3 linked regions of the Homo sapiens genome follow. The protein of the gene in region 1 purifies or fractionates together with the protein of each later gene. This does not show direct contact. Each region holds a gene or a part of one and is shown in the gene's direction. Other genes may lie near its edges.

Region 1 (3,648 bases):
ACTGGGCATGGTGGCTCATGCCTATAATCCCAGCACTTTGGGAGGCCAAGGTGGGTGGATCACTTGAGATCAGCCTGGCCAACATGGCAAAACCCCATGGCGCGGTGGCCTTGGGTAAATCTTACTTATTTTCCCCATCTATAAAATGAGGCTATTAATTCCTTTTTGTCCTACCAGTAAATTCACCTCATAAAGATAATGAAAACCAGGCCAGGCATGGTGGCTCACACCTGTAATCCCAGCACTTTGGGGAGGGTGAGGCAGGCGGATCACTTGAGGTCAGGAGTTCGAGACCAGCCTGGCCAACATGGTGAAACCCTGTCTCTACTAAAAATACACAAATTAGCTGGGTGTGCTGGCCTACGCCTGTAATCCCAGCTACAAAAAAGGCTGAGGCAGGAGAGTCACTTGAACTCTGCCAGGAGGCAGAGGTTGCAGTGAGCTGAGATTGTGCCACTGCATTCCAGCCTGGGCCACGGAGCGAGACAACATCTCAAAAAAAAAAAAAAAAAAAAAGATAATGAAAACCAACTAATTCAGGAAAAAGGAAAAGTTAAAAAGTGCTGTAAAATACAGACTGTCGGCCAGGTGCGGTGGTTCACACGTGTAATCCCAACACTTTGGGAGGCCAAGTTGGGCGGATCACTTGAGCTCAGGAGTTCAAGACCAGCCTGGCCAACATGGTGAAACCTCGTCACTACTAAAAATAAAAAATTAGCTGGGCGTGGTGGCATGCACCTGTAGTCCCAGCTACTCGGGAGGCTGAGGCAGGAGAATTGCTTGAACTGGGAGGCAGAGGTTGCAGTGAGCCAAGATTGCACCACTGCACTCCAGCCTGGGCAACAGAGTGAGACTCTGTTTCAAAAAATATACATATAGGGGCTGGGCGTGGTGGCTCACGCCTGTAATCCTAACACTTTGGGAGGCTGAGGCGAGTGAATCACGAGGTCCAGAGATCGAGACCATCCTGGCTAACACCGTGAAACCCCGTCTCTACTAAAAATACAAAAAATTAGCCAGGTGTGGCCGGGCGCAGTGGCTCACGCCTGTAATCCCATCACTTTGGGAGGCTGAGGCAGGCGGATCATGAGGTCAGGAGATCGAGACCATCCTGGCTAACACGGTGAAACCCTGTCTACTAAAAATACAAAAAATTAGCTGGGCGAGGTGGCGGGCGCCTGTAGTCCCAGCTACTTGGGAGGCTGAGGCAGGAGAATGGCGTGAACCCTGGGGGGTGGAGCCTGCAGTGAGCCAAGATCACGCCACTGCACTCCAGCCTGGGCGACAGCGAGACTCCGTCTCAAAAAAAGAAAAAAAAAATTAGTCGAGTGTGGTGGTGGTGGCCTGTAGTCCCAGCTACTTGGGAGGCTGAGGCAGGAGAATGGCGTGAACCTGGGAGGCGGAGCTTGCAGTGAGCCGAGATCGCGCCACTGCACTCCAGCCTGGGTGACAGATGTATATACACACACACACACACGTATAGACTGTTTCTCATTAGTACTGTTTAACAGTTTTATTTTATTTCATTTTTATTTTTTTGAGACAGAGTCTTGCTCTGTTGCCCAGGCTGGAGTGCAGTGGCCTGATCTCGGCTCACTGCAACCTCTGCCTGCCAGGTTCAAGCAATTCTCCTGCCTCAGCCTCCTGAGTAGCTGGGTTACAGGCACGTGCCACCACACCTGGCTAATTTTTGTATTTTTAGTACAGACAAGGTTTCACCATGTTGGTCAGGCTGGTCTTGAACTCTTGACCTTGTGATCCACCCACCTCAGCCCCCCAAAGTGCTGGGATTACAGGTGTGAGCCACTGCGCCCGGCCTCTCATTAGTACTTTTTTGTTTGTTTGTTTGTTTGTTATTTTTTGAGATGGAGTCTTGCTCTGTCGCCCAGGCTGGAGTGCAGTGGTGCGATCGCGACTCACTGCTAGCTCCACCTTCCGGGTTCATGCCATTGTCCTGCCTCAGCCTCCCGAGTAGCTGCGACTACAGGCACCCACCACCACACCCAGTTAATTTTTTTGTATTTTTAGTAGAGACGGGGTTTCACCATGTTAGCCAGGATGGTCTCGATCTCCTGACCTCGTGATCCGCCCGCCTCGGCCTCCCAAAGTGCTGGGATTACAGGCGTGAGCCACCGCGCCCGGCTCATTAGTACTGTTAAAGGAGAGAGCAGGCAGAGGCTTTTGGATTTCATGTGGCCAGGAATGGGATATGGTATAGAAGACTGACTTTTCTAGCAGCTGTATAGGATATTGATAAATGGAGGAATAGACTGACATTTGACCAGAGCTTATGGTTATTCCTCTAAGCAGTCATTGATTAGAATGGGAAGGAACTAAGTAAAGGGGTAATGAGAATGGGGAGAAAAAGAGATGGCAAGGTAAGGTTAGGCCTGACCAGGTTGTATGTAGGAATTAAGAGTCAGGCAATTTCAACACTTTAATCTAGAAGAATGGTGTCTAGAGGATGGAGGTGTTCATCCTACTGGTGGGATTGTTGTCAAGAGGCATACCTGTGACACTTAACACTGAGAGTATCATTTGAGTCTTGAAAAAGGTGGGGGCCTTCAGTCCTCATCTTTCCTTTGATCCCCTATGTCCTCACACAGAACTCATCATCCTTATGGAGGTCTTCAGGGGCCCCAGAGACACTGCAGAGAGTGTCAGGGATTTCCTTCCCCACAACAGAATTGCTGAGGGTCTGGGAAGCATGGAGGGAGGAAGCAGAATTGCGGGACCACCGGCGCATTGGGAAGGTACAGGAATTGGGAAGATAGGGAGGGATGGTGATAAGGGTTGGAGAGAGATGACAGAACCTGATTATGAAATTGGGAGCAGATTCAGTCACACAGACTGAGCAGCTCCGTCAGTTGTTCTGAGTTCCAAAGCCACCTCCTTGCCCTTGAGGTGACCCAATATTGCTATTCCTGACCCCAGGAACAGGAGCTCTTCTTCTTCCATGAACTGAGCCCTGGGAGCTGCTTCTTCCTGCCACGAGGGACAAGGGTGTATAATGCACTAGTGGCGTTTATCAGGGTAAGGGGACCCAGGTCTAGAGGAAAGAAGACCAGGGAGGGGCTGAGGGACTAGAAGAAGCTAAGGTGTTTGTGTTAAAAGATGGGGGTTGGGGCCGGGCACAGTGGCTCACATCTATAATCCTAGCACTTTCGGAGGCTGAGCCGTGCAGATCACCTGAGGTCAGGAGTTCGAGACCAGCCTGGCCAACATGGCAAAACCCTGTCTCTACTAAAATAAATACAAAAAATTAGCCAGTGTGGTGGCAGCGCCTGTAGTCCCAGCTACTGGGGAGGCTGAGGCAGGAGAATCCCTTGAACCCAGGAAGGGGAGGTTGCAGTGAACTGAGATTGAGCCACTGCACTCCAGCCTGTGTGATACAGTGAGACTCCGTCTTGAAGAGAAAAAAAAAGGTGGGGGGGCTGGTTTGGAATCATAAACATAAATATTGAAAGTGCTGGTGACCTTTAATACTACAATTGTGTGGTCTGCAGTCGGGGAGCATAGAGATGGGACCTGGTATTTAATAGGTTGTGGTTGCAATCAGCATGGCCTGAGGGCCCAGGAAGATCACACAGCTGACACCCTACCTGCTTTCCTTCCAGTTACTCTGACCTTCCATGTCTGTACCCTCCT
Region 2 (3,748 bases), on another chromosome or scaffold:
GGTGCTGAGCCCTGCTCCAGACCCCGGCGCCCCGCAGTCTACACCAGCGTATGCCACTACCTTGACTGGATCCAAGAAATCATGGAGAACTGAGCCCGCGCGCCACGGGGGCACCTTGGAAGACCAAGAGAGGCCGAAGGGCACGGGGTAGGGGGTTCTCGTAGGGTCCCAGCCTCAATGGTTCCCGCCCTGGACCTCCAGCTGCCCTGACTCCCCTCTGGACACTAAGACTCCGCCCCTGAGGCTCCGCCCCCTCACGAGGTCAAGCAAGACACAGTCGCGCCCCCTCGGAACGGAGCAGGGACACGCCCTTCAGAGCCCGTCTCTATGACGTCACCGACAGCCATCACCTCCTTCTTGGAACAGCACAGCCTGTGGCTCCGCCCCAAGGAACCACTTACACAAAATAGCTCCGCCCCTCGGAACTTTGCCCAGTGGGACTTCCCCTCGGGACTCCACCCCTTGTGGCCCCGCCTCCTTCACCAGAGATCTCGCCCCTCGTGATGTCAGGGGCGCAGTAGCTCCGCCCACGTGGAGCTCGGGCGGTGTAGAGCTCAGCCCCTTGTGGCCCCGTCCTGGGCGTGTGCTGGGTTTGAATCCTGGCGGAGACCTGGGGGGAAATTGAGGGAGGGTCTGGATACCTTTAGAGCCAATGCAACGGATGATTTTTCAGTAAACGCGGGAAACCTCACCTTCTTTCTGCCTGAGCTGTGAGATGAGTGGAGAGCAAACGGGTGGGCGGTGAAGGGCAGATGAGGGAACCGGTACCGCCTTGCAACTCCCCCTTAAACCCCTAGTAAGTTTTGCCTAAAGTCTCTGTCCATCAGCCCTATTGCAGCAAGACTCCTGGGTTCTGCTTGGGTTGGTCTTGCCGCCTCCAGGGGAAGGGGAAACCAGGTCACAGTGCCTCCCAAACCTGCCCTCCCAGATCCCGGACCTCTCAGGGGACAGCGGGCGGGGCCTGATCCACCCTCTGGTTTCTGACCCTAGAAGACCTGCCTTTCTTCGGTTCCCGGTTACTGGCAGCAGCCCCCTCCTCCCACAAAAGATCAGGTTCCAAGCTTCTCCTTTTAAAAGTACTTAGAATTCAGCCCCCAGCTCTCTCCTCCCTCACACCCAGGAATCCAGGCCCCTAGCCCCTCCTCCCTCAGACCCAGGAGTCCTGGCCCCTAGCAGCCCCCTCCTCCCTCAGACCCAGGAGTCTGGGCCCCCAGCCCCTCCTCGGTCAGACCTAAATCCCAGGTCCCAGTCCCTCCTCCCTTAGATTTAGGAGTCCAGGCCCCCAGCCTCTCCTCCCTCAGACCCAGGAATCCAGGCCCCCAGCCTCCTCCCCTCTCAGAACTAAAATCTTGGCCCCCAGCCCTTTATGTTTCAGATCGTAGAGTCTCAGCACCGAGTCCCTCCTCTCCCTAGCCTCAGGAGTCTGAGATTCCAGCCCCTCCTCCCTCAAGATTTCACGTTCAATCCCCTCCGCCCCTTCTCACTCACACCCAGTGTTCCAGTTCCCAGAAGCTCCCCAGGCTCTAGTGCAGGAGGAGAAGGAGGAGGAGCAGGAGGTGGAGATTCCCAGTTAAAAGGCTCCAGAATCGTGTACCAGGCAGAGAACTGAAGTACTGGGGCCTCCTCCACTGGGTCCGAATCAGTAGGTGACCCCGCCCCTGGATTCTGGAAGGTGAGGTGCAGAGGTACTCAGATACAGACATCAGGCCCCGGACCCTCCTTCTCCAGATTCCAGGACCCCAGCCTCAGATGCCCTTCTCTGTCGAGATCCAGCAGTCTGGACCCCGGCTTCCTCCTCTCCCTAATTTAGGAGTCCCAGCTCCCAGCTCCCTGTCCCCTCAGACCCAGACATCGAGGACTCCCCCCTCCCTTGGAATGTAGGAATCCAGTCCCCCAGCCTCCTCCTTCCTCCAGAGAAGCCCAGAACAGCCCCAGATACTCTCGGCTGCCTCCCCAGTGCCCAAATCCAGAACTGGGAGCTCAGGCTCCTCCTTCCTGTTTACCGGCCCCGCCCTCTCCATTTCCCAGACCTCACCATGGGACGCCCCCGACCTCGTGCGGCCAAGACGTGGATGTTCCTGCTCTTGCTGGGGGGAGCCTGGGCAGGTGAGGAGGGTTGCGGAGGCCTCCGGAGGGGAGGGATCTGAAGGCAGCAGTGGCGCTGGGGAGTCTGTGGGAATGCCGCGGGGGTTATGTGGGTGCGTGTGCACGGATGTGAAGAGTGCGATACGGTGCAGGAGCCTCTGTGGGCTTTCCTCAGGGTGGACAGAGGCAAGAAACAGGTAGCAGCAGGTAGGAGTAGGTTCCGTGATGCTGTAAATTGTCTGAATAGCTACAGCCTTTGGGGGCTGCTTGCTTGGGGGCATAGATTCACCTGGGAGTACTCGGGGCCTGTAGACTCATGTGGAAGCATGTGGGGGCATTCTTGGGTGTGTGACTCTTGTATGATGACACATGGACTGAAATGAGTGTCCCCGTGTGGCAGCGTGTGGAAGCCTGGACCTCCTCACTAAGTTGTATGCGGAGAACTTGCCGTGTGTCCATTTGAACCCACAGTGGCCTTCCCAGCCCTCGCACTGCCCCAGAGGGTGGCGATCCAACCCTCTCCCTCCTGCTGCAGGACACTCCAGGGCACAGGAGGACAAGGTGCTGGGGGGTCATGAGTGCCAACCCCATTCGCAGCCTTGGCAGGCGGCCTTGTTCCAGGGCCAGCAACTACTCTGTGGCGGTGTCCTTGTAGGTGGCAACTGGGTCCTTACAGCTGCCCACTGTAAAAAACCGTGAGTGGATGATGGGGGCAGAGGTCAGCTGGGGCTTAAGGAAAGAGGGGGCTGGGGTTTCGACTCAGGAAGGAGAGAGCTGAGGACTGGACTCCTGGGTCTGAAGGAGGAGGGGGCTGGGGGCAATACCCCTGCCTGGGTCCCAAACTATCCCCACCATTACAGGAAATACACAGTACGCCTGGGAGACCACAGCCTACAGAATAAAGATGGCCCAGAGCAAGAAATACCTGTGGTTCAGTCCATCCCACACCCCTGCTACAACAGCAGCGATGTGGAGGACCACAACCATGATCTGATGCTTCTTCAACTGCGTGACCAGGCATCCCTGGGGTCCAAAGTGAAGCCCATCAGCCTGGCAGATCATTGCACCCAGCCTGGCCAGAAGTGCACCGTCTCAGGCTGGGGCACTGTCACCAGTCCCCGAGGTAGTGGGCTTGTCCACTAATGGGAGGGAGAGGAGGAGCTGGTTGGCCCAGTGGAACCCAAGCTATTGGCAAAGCTTGGTCCCCCAGAGGGAGACAAAGAAGGGAAAGTGATCATGATGTTGAGATTCACAAGCAGGAGTCATATGAGAAGCCTCGAAGATCTGACTACTAACAAGAGTGGTGAGAGAAAGAACCAACTAGCAGATTGTTAAGCAGGGCCAGAAAAGCCCATCCTGTATGGCGGAGAGCACTACCCTATGGGACCTTTGGTTGTATAGGATTTTATATAATCTTAACACACTTGGGATATTTGGACTTCTCAGAGGCCCAGGAAAACAGGCTCCTAAGCACCTTCTCCCCCACCTCCCTCCTTTTTTTTTTTTTTTTTTTTTTTTTTTTTTTTTTTTTTTTTGCAGGGGGACACAGTTTCACTCAATCGCCCAGGCTGGAGTGCAGTGGCACAATCTCAGCTCACTACAATCTCTGCCTCCTGGGTTTAAGCGATTCTCGAACCTCAGCCTCCCGAGTAGCTGGGATTAC
Region 3 (3,748 bases), on another chromosome or scaffold:
TACAGGTGTGACCCACTGCACCCAGCCATAAAACTCTTTAACACAAACTCTTCAAAGTGACATCTTTTGTAACCTTCATAGGTTACAAAAGGTATTGATATATTAATAGATTGAGATTTGATTGCGGGGGGGCGGGGCAGGGGGAGAATGCTAAAAAAATAAGTCAGCTTTCTTTTCTGTAACTATTTAAAAGAATGCAAAGTAATTCTACAGGCAATTCCTTGGTGGGCTTATTTGGTAATTTTTTTTTTCTTTTCCATTTTCCTCTTGCTCTTTGGTTTGTAGGAGAACCGCTTTATTCCCAGGAGGCAATTTTGAGTCCCAACATGTCCTGCATCATCTCCTGTGCCCATTGCCAAAGGAAGGCGACCAGAGCGTGGGTTTCAGCACAGCTCTGATTGGATGATAAGCAAGGAGAGTAATGTGCTGCTAGGAGGTTAGAGAAAAGAAAATACTAGAATATACCAGAATGTAGTATTTCCACTTCCCTCCCTCCAAATCAAAAGCCTCATGAATGAAATTATGACCATTATTCAAGTGCAATTATACTGAGTATGTAAAATGGAAACACTGAAAGTAAATCATACATTTGGATATTACATTTCATATTTGAGAACATGCCAGAAACATTGTATTATTGTTGAGTGTAATGTCAGGAGACAAACTTCTACGCATTTTATACATAAATTTTTCCATTTTCTCTGTTTCCCATTTATGTCAAGTTGAACACATGGTATGACTTTTAATATTCTCTCTTCCTTCTCCTTCCCCACATTGAATGTCAAGTGATCACACTCAATCTTGATTATCCTAAATTTACCCTTAGGACCTGTCACCTCATTGGGTGTTGCCGCTAGAACAAGAGGGTTTTTTAAATGGTATAAAAAGGAGAGGCCCGGCTTGGTAGCTCATGCCTGTAATTCTAGCACTTTGGGAGGCTGGGGCGGGAAATCCCTTGATCCCAGGAGTTTCAGACCAGCCTGGGCAACATGGTGAGACTCTGTCTCTATAAAAAAAAAAATTTTTTTTTTTAATTTAGCTGGGTGTGGTGGCATGCCCTGTAGTCTCAGCTACTATGGAGGCTGAGGTGGGAGGATCACTTGATCCTGGAAGGTGGAGGCTGCAGTAAGCTGAGTGGCACCAGTGCACTCCTGTCAAAAGAGAGAGAGGAGAGAGAGAGAGAGAGAGAGGAAGAGTCCCTAAAGAAACCTATAAAACTGGGGTCTTATGGATGCTAGCACATATCTTGGAAAGAACTGCCAGCGCCAGTGGATTACAGAAGACAACTGTGGCTACAGGCTGTTCTTGCCAGCTCAGGCGTCAACTCGTGGAAACCGGTTAATGACCCGAGGGGACAGCGGATTCTCGCCTAAGCAAGATCCCGCAGATGGGAGGGCGTAGGAAGAGGTTCCCCGGGCCGGCTCCAGGCCCCAGCGGGCGTGGGCGTTGGCAGTGAGCGAGGGGTGGTCCCGCGCCGCGCCGGCGGGGGGCGCCCGAATGAGAGCGCGGGGCGGTGCCGTTGGGACCACGGCGGCCAGAGCGGCAGGATGGCTTCCGGCTTCAAGAAGCCCAGCGCTGCCTCCACCGGCCAAAAGAGAAAGGTGGCACCTAAGCCCGAGCTCACTGAGGATCAGAAGCAAGAAGTTCGGGAAGCATTTGACCTCTTCGACGTGGACGGAAGTGGGACCATCGACGCGAAGGAGCTGAAGGTGGCCATGAGAGCGCTGGGCTTCGAACCCAGGAAGGAAGAGATGAAGAAAATGATCTCCGAGGTGGACAGGGAAGGCACGGGGAAGATCAGCTTCAATGACTTCCTGGCCGTGATGACGCAGAAGATGTCCGAGAAGGACACCAAAGAAGAAATCCTGAAGGCCTTCAGGCTCTTTGATGACGATGAGACCGGGAAGATCTCGTTCAAAAACCTGAAGCGTGTGGCCAACGAGCTGGGGGAGAACCTCACGGATGAGGAGCTGCAGGAGATGATCGACGAAGCTGATCGGGATGGGGACGGCGAAGTGAACGAGGAGGAGTTCCTTCGGATCATGAAGAAGACCAGCCTTTACTGAAGTCGGTTCAGAAGCTAAAGTGACTCTCTGGGTTGCCTGCTTCCATTTTGTGAAACCTTAGAGGACAGCGGCTGCCTGTCCCTTCTTCACCCCCTCACCCCCATAATTTGTCTAGATCTATTTCCATATCTCTAGTTCAATAATAGAATTTGAAAGATGCTTGTAATGTGAGTTTTGGGTTTTAATTCTCAAGAGTCAACCTGGAGCACATGAGGTTAAACAAAGGGCCCTGAAGTTTGAGTGCGCCCTCCATTTGCCCTGTGCTGAACTTGCTGTTCATCTGTTGATCTGGAGGCAGGACAGCTTCTGGGACACACAAAAATGTGGTTCCCTTTGTCACTTCTTTGGTGGTCTTAAATTATCTTGCTTCATATATCATTCCTTAAATTCCAGTCATTGTTCCAGCATAATGAGATGGAATCTGCCAGTAGATTTGCCTAGCCTGTCCACTTAGCTGAATACCAGTTTGAAGGAAAACAGGGTGGCCACTTACAAACTTACGGAGCTCAGGACAGATAATCTTATAAAGAATAGACTTGCTTGGGTGGTAGTACGTTGTGCAATTTTGACTATTCACTGGCTTTATACCTGCAAATGATTCTTCGTTCATGTGTAAATTGTCCACCATGGGTTTATCTAGGGCTAGTATGTATACCTGGGCTACAGAATAAAAATAAAATCTAATACTGGCCCAAGCAAAGTATAATTTGCTTAAGAGGTTACGCTAACAAACGATTTTGAGTAAATATTTACAAATGTAGGATCTTAGTTTAGGAAATTATAACAAATACCTTAATATAACATTTTAAGCTACTTATAGTCCTTGGAAATAGCAACAAATATCTTAGTTATTGGACTATTATAACCTTAGTCATCTTATTACTGCTTGATTATGAGACACTCTCCCTGCTAATCCTTAGAACATCTTGGTTCTTGGTACTTGACTTTTAGCCCCTCTGACATATAGTTGATGTCAGAGTGTCTGGCATTTCAGTAGTGCTCTATTTTACAAATCCCAGTAAACTGCTCCACTGTGGCTTGTTTATGTGTTAATACTGCTTGTTTTCTGTTATAAATTATTTTTTGCTTTGGAGTAAGATATCATCATTTTGCATAGCTACAAATCTGAAGTTAAAGAAAATTTTAAAAATGTAATTGTGGGAAAATAACAAATAGATCTGCTGAGATGGAGGCTTTGACTAATGTTTTAATAACAGGCAACAAAACAAAGAGGCAGGATATTTTGGTCACAACTAAACCTAAATTAAATCCTCATACAAAGCCCCATTAAGATAAATGCTCAAATTCTGGGAACATTTCACTTGCTTTGCCAGCAATTTTACCCTTCAGAGGGTGTGGATCTAATCAGGGGAACAAACTACCCTGGGCTTAATTCTCATTAACAGGGACTAATTTGTCAAAGCGGCAGTACTAGCTGAAGTGATGGGTATGGAAGCATTCACTGTGAGGATTTTGCTGAGGTGCCTGGCACAGGGTAGGGGAACTCACCCAGGCTGCAAGATGCTAACAGTTCAGGTTCAAGGTCTTAGTGTGGACTAAGGTGCAGTCAGGATGGGAACAGGTGCAACTTGGGCCAACATCAGTATGAAGGGCCTGATCTGAGGGCAGGGGAAGGAGGGGGCATTCTGGGAAGCAAGAGTTCCTGGTATCCTGTTGACCAG

Evidence for each region.
Region 2: the proteins of TARS2 (region 1) and KLK8 purify together in Homo sapiens (co-immunoprecipitation; one large-scale study listed by IntAct). This does not show direct contact.
Region 3: the proteins of TARS2 (region 1) and CETN1 purify together in Homo sapiens (co-immunoprecipitation; one large-scale study listed by IntAct). This does not show direct contact.

The regions. Positions count from the first base shown.
Region 1 is NC_000001.11:150,493,876-150,497,523, forward strand, and holds part of TARS2 (threonine--tRNA ligase, mitochondrial), read left to right. Parts: intron 1-2,606; coding exon 2,607-2,753; intron 2,754-2,934; coding exon 2,935-3,033; intron 3,034-3,648. UniProt on the Homo sapiens protein: Catalyzes the attachment of threonine to tRNA(Thr) in a two-step reaction: threonine is first activated by ATP to form Thr-AMP and then transferred to the acceptor end of tRNA(Thr). Also edits incorrectly charged tRNA(Thr) via its editing domain.
Region 2 is NC_000019.10:50,999,456-51,003,203, reverse strand, and holds the start of KLK8 (kallikrein-8 isoform 1 preproprotein), read left to right. Parts: upstream 1-1,599; 5' UTR 1,600-1,672; intron 1,673-2,028; 5' UTR 2,029-2,036; coding exon 2,037-2,106; intron 2,107-2,485; coding exon of another isoform or gene 2,486-2,620; coding exon 2,621-2,780; intron 2,781-2,945; coding exon 2,946-3,208; intron 3,209-3,748. Other genes in the region: KLK9 (kallikrein-9 precursor), read left to right, coding at 1-93. UniProt on the Homo sapiens protein: Serine protease which is capable of degrading a number of proteins such as casein, fibrinogen, kininogen, fibronectin and collagen type IV. Also cleaves L1CAM in response to increased neural activity.
Region 3 is NC_000018.10:578,862-582,609, forward strand, and holds CETN1 (centrin-1), read left to right. Parts: upstream 1-1,518; 5' UTR 1,519-1,547; coding exon 1,548-2,066; 3' UTR 2,067-3,253; downstream 3,254-3,748. UniProt on the Homo sapiens protein: Plays a fundamental role in microtubule-organizing center structure and function. Plays a role in sperm cilia formation.